2 linked regions of the Homo sapiens genome follow. The protein of the gene in region 1 purifies or fractionates together with the protein of each later gene. This does not show direct contact. Each region holds a gene or a part of one and is shown on either strand. Other genes may lie near its edges.

What was found.
Region 2: the proteins of NNMT (region 1) and GLOD4 fractionate together in Homo sapiens (co-fractionation; one large-scale study listed by BioGRID). This does not show direct contact.

The regions. Positions count from the first base shown.
Region 1 is NC_000011.10:114,302,629-114,306,454, forward strand, and holds part of NNMT (nicotinamide N-methyltransferase), read left to right. Parts: intron 1-3,826. UniProt on the Homo sapiens protein: Catalyzes the N-methylation of nicotinamide using the universal methyl donor S-adenosyl-L-methionine to form N1-methylnicotinamide and S-adenosyl-L-homocysteine, a predominant nicotinamide/vitamin B3 clearance pathway.
Region 2 is NC_000017.11:758,813-762,364, reverse strand, and holds the end of GLOD4 (glyoxalase domain-containing protein 4), read left to right. Parts: intron 1-2,126; coding exon 2,127-2,192; 3' UTR 2,193-3,035; downstream 3,036-3,552.

The sequences.
Region 1 (3,826 bases):
GTTAGTTGAATAGTGTTAAGTATAGTCACATAAGTCAGTATACAGTTTTAAACAATGTATATAACAATATATATTAAACATAGGAATTTTGGACTGAATGTTTTTATCCCTCCCTCCCAATTTCTGTGTTGAAATCCTAACCCCCTTATGATGGTATTAAGAGGTCGGGGCTTTGAAAGGTCATTAGGTCATGGAGGTGGAGACTTCATGAATGGGATTAGTGCCCTTATAAAAGGAACCCCATAGAGCTCTCTAGCTCTCCTTCTGCCATATAAAGGTACAATGAGAAGTCAGCTGTCTGTGGCCCAGAAGAGTCCTCATCAGACCCTGACCAGGCTGGCATCCTAATCTCAGACTTCCAGCCTTTAGAATTGTAGGAAATAAATTTCTGTTGTTTATGAGCCACCCAGTCTATGGTATTCTGTTACAGGAGCCCAAACTAACTAAGGCTATATTATGCATATATTTAAGATCTTTTATATTTACCCACATATCTTTCTTCTCTAGTGTTTTTCATTCCTTTCCCAAGATCTGTTCTTCTGTTTGGCATCATTTTCCTTCACCTGAAGAACTTATTTTAGTATTAGTTATAATGCAGTTCTGCTGGAGACAAATTCTCTTAACTTATCAAGTCGGGTAAAAAGTTAGTAATTGTTTTCCTCCCTGCTAACTTGAGGAATTTAACAATTTTTGATAACCAAAGTCCCCTGGCATCTCTCTTACCAGTATTTATTATTGAAATCTGAGATTTTAAAGTTCAAATATTGTAATTTAAAGTATTATTTTTATATTTTCTTTCAAGATCAGTTTGGACATTTGCTTTTGGTTTGTAATCAAATTTAGAATTATTTGGACATATTTGGTGCTCATTTTATACAATTTTTCTAGATATTGAGTCTTTAATTTTGGTTCATCTGTCAACTGAATAGATCTTCAAATATTTATTTCAAGAGGAACATACAGTGACGTGTTTTCTAAGTCCATGCATATATGAGAATGTATTTTGTCACTCTTACACATGAACAAAATCATAAAATTGTTTAAATATTGCCCCACTTTTTTTCTGACATGTAGTAAGAAGTTGAGAGAGGCTATTCTATTTTTTTTAGACAGGGTCTTGCTCTGTCACCCACACTGGGGTGCAGTGGTGAGATCTCACTGTAGCCTTGACCTCCTGGGCTCAGGTGATTTCCCACCTTAGCCTCCTGAGTAGCTGGGACTACAGGTCCACACTGCCATAGCTGGCTAATTTTTTGTAGAGATGGGAGTTTTGCTCTGTTGCCCAGGCCGGTGAGAGCCTATTTTCATATGCATTTTAACCTGTATACCCCTGACTTAGAATTTTATATTGGCTATAGCCTTCAAAGTGGGGCTATATTCTTCAATATAAAAATAATTTCATACACCTTTTTTTTCTGTTGACTATGTGATTCTACAGAATGAAATTGATATTAACTAGAAACAATTGCAGCTATGACAATTTGGACAATATCTAAAGTTATTTAGTAAATAAGGAAATTCCCAGGGTTTGTAGAATCTCAGGGAAACTTTGTAATAAGTAAATAAATCTTCAGTCACTGTTAGACAACACACCTTGCCAAAGTCCAAATCATCTGTCAAGAAGGCCTTTGAAACTTTGTTCTCACTTTCTGTATCCACCACCGGCCTTTCCATCTCATTCAAAAATAAACCCTTACAATCTAGCAGGATAGTAAAAGCATTACTTATCTCACACCTGAAATGTCAGCTTGGAACAACTAGCTCTTGAGACACTGTCCCCTCCCAATCACTCTGTTGGACATTGCATTTTTGGCAGTAAATTTCTGCATTCTTATCCTTATCCTTGTGCTAGATCCTGTGGCTTTAATTATTTTAAGAATGATAATGATCCTATGCAACTCATGTCTTTCCTGCATCTTCAAGTAGCTTTATCAACCTACAACCTATTTCCTTCAAGATGATTTCTTCTTTATCTGAAGTTTTTTCTTGTGCTAAAGGCTGCCAAAGACGTATGTACTGTCTCCTGTTCTTCTACCTCTGCATTTAAATACCACTCATTTTAAATTAGCTGGCCATAGTGGTGCACACCCGTATTCCCAGCTACTGGGGAGGCTGAGGAGAGAGGATCACTTGAGCTTGGGAGATCGAGGCTGCAGTGAGCTGTGGTCACATTCCAGACTGGCTGGCAGAGTGACACTCTGTCTCAAAAATAATAAAAAATAATAATAAAAATAAATAACCCTCATTTTTACAACTATCCAAAAAAGTTTTAAGAAAGTCAAACACTAAGATACAATTACTCAAGCTTATACAATGAACAGAGGAAAATGAGCTCTTTCCTTAAGAAATTGTAGAAGCTGCATTACTTAACCTATGGTTCCTGGAACTTGGAATGCATAGCTTAGGCTTGTGGTCCCTGGACTAGTAGTTTGACAACACGTGGGAGCTTTTAGAAATGCAGGCTGTCAGGCCCCACTAGCTACCTACAGAATCAGAACCTTCACTGTAAGATCTGCTAAGGGTGGTATGCACATTACAGTAGAAGAAGCACTGGTGTCTGGAGCAGGGCTTCCCTCTAGGTGTGCCAGGGCACACACACAGGTGGGTGGGAATCAGTTGCAGGCATGCTGTCCAAGCTGTTTTCCTTGGCCCTCTTGACAGCAGGTGGGGCATGGACCACCTCCTGGTTGCCTCTGTAGAGAGTGGCTCCTCCTTTTTTTTTTTTAATTTTTTATTATACTTTAAGTTCTAGGGTACATGTGCACAACGTGCAGGTTTGTTACTTATGTATACATGTGCCATGTTGGTGTGCTGCACCCATTAACTCGTCATTTACATTAGGTATATCTCCTAATGCTATCCATGCCCCCTCCCCCCACCCCACGACAGGCCCCGGTGTGTGATGTTCCCCACCCTGTATCCAAGTGTTCTCATTGTTCAATTCCCACCTATGAGTGAGAACGTGTGGTGTTTGGTTTTCTGTCCTTGAGATAGTTTGCTCAGAATGATGGTTTCCAGCTTCATCCATGTCCCTACAAAGGACATGAACTCATCATTTTTTATGGCTGCATAGTATTCCATGGTGTATATGTGCCACATTTTCTTAATCCAGTCTATCATTGTTGGACATTTGGGTTGGTTCCAAGTCTTTGCTATTGTGAATAGTGCCACAATAAACATATGTGTGCATGTGTCTTTATAGCAGCATGATTTATAATCCTTTGGGTATATACCCAGTAATGGGATGGCTGGGTCAAATGGTATTTCTAGTTCTAGATCCCTGAGGAATCACCACACTGACTTCCACAATGGTTGAACTAGTTTACAGTCCCACCAACAATGTAAAAGTGTTCCTATTTCTCCACATCCTCTCCAGCACCTGTTGTTTCCTGACTTTTTAATGATCACCATTCTAAGTGGTGTGAGATGGTGTCTCATTGTGGTTTTGATTTGCATTTCTCTGATGACCAGTGATGATGAGCATTTTTTCATGTGTCTGTTGGCTGCATAAATGTCTTCTTTTGAGAAGTGTCTGTTCATATCCTTTGCCCACTTTTTGATGGGGTTGTTTGATTTTTTCTTGTAAATTTGTTTAAGTTCTTTGTAGATTCTGGATATTAGCCCTTTGTCAGATGGGTAGATTGTAAAATTTCTCTCCCATTCTGTAGGTTGCCTGTTCACTCTGATGCTAGTTTCTTTTGCTGGCAGAAGCTCTTTAATTTAATTAGATCTCATTTGTTAATTTTGGCTTTTGTTGCTATTGCTTTTGGTGTTTTAGACATGAAGTCCTTGCCCATGCCTATGGCCTGAATGGTATTCCCTAGGT
Region 2 (3,552 bases), on another chromosome or scaffold:
GCCCTGCTCCCTCCCTGGACAGTACAGCGTGTCTGTGATCCCAGTTGTTCACGCTGGAATCCTCAGAGCCAGTTTTGGTGTTATTTTGTTGTGTTTTGTTTTTTAACATTTAATAGTCGTTTTAGATTTACAGACAGTCACTTTTGACCATTATTTCTCCTCATCCTTAAATTATTTTAGCTATTAGTCACCAAGAGCTGTGAGTTCTACCTCTGAAATGTCTTCTGCCTATCAGCTTTCCCTTTGAAAGGCCTCATTGTCAACTTACGGTCTGTCCCAAAGCAAACAGCCAGTAATTTTTAAAACCGTTTAATCCGATAGCTCTCTCTTGCCTCTGAGATAAATTTCAAACTCTCTGACAGAGCATGTGACATTTTTGGACATTCTCTACCCTCTGACCTTCTTTCCCACCTGCCTCCCTAAGTCCCCTAACTCATCCCTATTCCAGTCCCACTGAACTGGTTATATTAGCTAAGATACTTCTTCTTGCATCCAACCCAAAGGGTTTTTTCCCTCTCCTCTTTTACTTGTCCTTCAACACTTAAAAGCTTTCTTAGGTTCAGCCGGGCGCGATGGCTCACCCCTGTAATCCCAGCACCTTGGGGGACCAAGGCGGGTGGCTCACCTGAGGTCAGGAGTCCCAGACCAGCCTGACCAACATGGTGAAACCCTGTCTCTACTAAACACAAAAAATTAGCCAGGCACGGTGGTGTACGCCTGTAATCCCAGCTACTTGGGAGGCTGAGGCAGGAGAATCACTTGAACCCAGAAGGCAGAGGTTGCAGTGAGCCGAGATGGCGCCGTTGCACTCCAGCCTGGGCGACAAGAGCAAAACTCCATTTCAAAAAAGAAAAAAAGCTTTCTTAGGTTCTCCAAATAATTTAGTTGTTCTTTCCTCCCACTTTTTATGGCTCCTAAAAGACAGAAACGTGCATATTTGTGACTTGTGGTTTTTTTAAGCATATCTTTGATTTTTAAATTCTTATTTTCATCAAGATAATAAATCAGATAGTACTAAGATTTTTTAGAAATGAAACGGTCCAACTCTGAGTCACACTACCTAGGACAGCCACTTTCACCTTCACTGTTTCTAAATAATAAATATATTTGTTTCTTCTTTTTCAATTGCCACCTCATCTTGTGACTTCCTGCTGAGGTAGATATTATAGCAAATGCTTCAAGACACACACATGCGTACACACACTCTGTCATGCAAAATACTTGTTTCCATATCTGAGTTCTCAGCTGTTCTGCACACTCCTCAAAGCTTCCGACTGTCTCTGCTGCCACATCTGAACCCAGCGTGGTACCTGGCTCTTTTTGACTACATAAATGAGTGTTTGTCCTTACTAAACAACGAAAGGGATGCTTGTGGAACCAAAACATTATTGTTAAGGCTTTGTATTATTCATTTATTTTTATTTGTATCTGTATGTATGTATATGAGACGGGGTCCCACTCTGTTACACAGGCTGAACTCGAATTCCTGAGCTCACGTGATCCTCTGGCCTCAGCCTCCAAGTGGCTGTGACTATAGGTGTGACCACTGGGCACGGCTTAAGGCTTCCTTTTTAATTAAGATGCCCAAACTAAACAGAACCAACATCAGAAGAGTAGGCCGGGAGGAGACTTACGAAAAAGGAATCATTCCAGGCTTCATCACTAAAACATCACGTAGAGTTTCATATTTGGCCTCACTATCAGACTGAGTTTCATGACACTAAAGATTCTTGAGCGTCTGCCCAGATGCTGTGAGTGGCAGGACTTGCTCTTTTACCAGAGATCCTACCGCCTGGCATGCGGGTCCCTGACCTCGTTGGTCCGCCAGCCACACTTCCTGGCTACAGGCTTGGTTTGCCCTTGACTCTGCCGAGTGAGGATCCACAGTTGCTCATTATCACCAGTATCTCTTGCCTTATTGAACATAACACTCTGTACTGGATTAATACTCTTTAAATGTTAAAAAATTTTTTTTATTTCTCTTCTCTTTTTTTTGGAGCGGGGGTTTGGGTCCTTTTTTTAATGTTAATTTTTTTTATTGTGGTCAGTACAGTGAGATATAAAGTGGGCTATGTCTTTTGTTTTTCAGGCTTGGAGTCAGTGTATATTCTATTTCTATTTTACAGGCAATGGCAGCAGATAAAAGTGACGAGTGGTTTGCCAAACACAATAAACCCAAAGCTTCAGGTTAACGGAAGACATGATGCAGAGCAAGCCTCTGTGATTCCTGCCCAGCACCTGTGAGGCCTGACGTGTCAGTTCCCAATAAATGCTCTTCTGATTTGTTTCCCGTACAGGCAAGGAGGCTTGGGTAGTGCAGATTTGTGTATTTCAATCTTTGAAAGCTCTGATGTAATTTAGAAATGAAATCCAATCATGAGTCCAGGTAGAGAACGCCTGCTGTAATCTACACTGTTGCTGGGACTGCGCATTCTGTATATAACTGTGTTGGATGAGTGACAGATGATTGTCCAGACTAGGACAGCGGCATGAACATGACTTTGGTTGGGATTGCGGATAGTTAGGGTTACCTCTGAATCGTGTAGCTTTTATGAGAGCAGCTGTGCAAGTGAATCCACATTAATGCCTTGTCGTGGTGCCATTCCCAGCGCCTGACGATACGCTCTTCTATTGTCTTATTCTGGCAGGTTTTGACGTTTTAAATTTTTTAAAGAAATTTTATTCCTTGGACCAAAAGGTTTGGTTAACCACCCCCCTCTTACTTGCTTTCACATTTTGAGTGTCCAGAGGAAACAGAAAGGAATGAGTGTGTGACGTTGCTGCACGCCTGACTCTGTGCGAGCTTCTTTCTGTGTATATATTTTGTTTTATTTTTTTCCGTGTATATTTTTAATCCCGACAGAACATCATGTGAGATTTCTTTAAAATGGATTAAACGATTTCTTCAGCCTGAAAAAAAAGGTTTTGAAAATGTTTTCTTGTAGTTTTGTTTGGTTCTAAACAACAAATAGGTTTTAATCACTCGAAATGGAATTATATTGTGTATTCATTGAATAAATTTTTTTTGAAAGTAAGCTTCTGAAATCAAGCTGTGATACCAGTCTCTAAGTCTCATCATGTAAAGTGGTGGCCAGGTTCAGATTTTTAAAAATAAACTTAGGAGATTGGAAGGGATTGACTCAGAGGATCCTGGTTCCCAAAGAACACATAGAGAATTACTTGTAAATCGTAACCTCTGCTTTCCTCCCTTACTGGCAGGGCGTAGGGCATCGAAATTTTGGTTGTATTTGAGCTTATCTTCTTATAGGGGTGATGCTATTATACCTTCACGGAGAGAAATAAATTCTCATCCAGCTCTACAACTTTTCATTCAGCTTGAATTCCATATCCTAGGGAAGCAGTCTTGAGTTTCAAAGCAAACCAAGTTATATATATGGCCCTCCTCTAGGTAATTGGTTCTTTTTATTTTTTATTTTTTTTTTTTGAGACAGAGTTTCGCTCTTGTTGCCCAGGCTGGAGTGCAATGGCGTGATCTTGGCTCACTGCAACCTCCGCCTCCCGGTTTCAAGCGATTCTCCTGCCTCAGCCTCC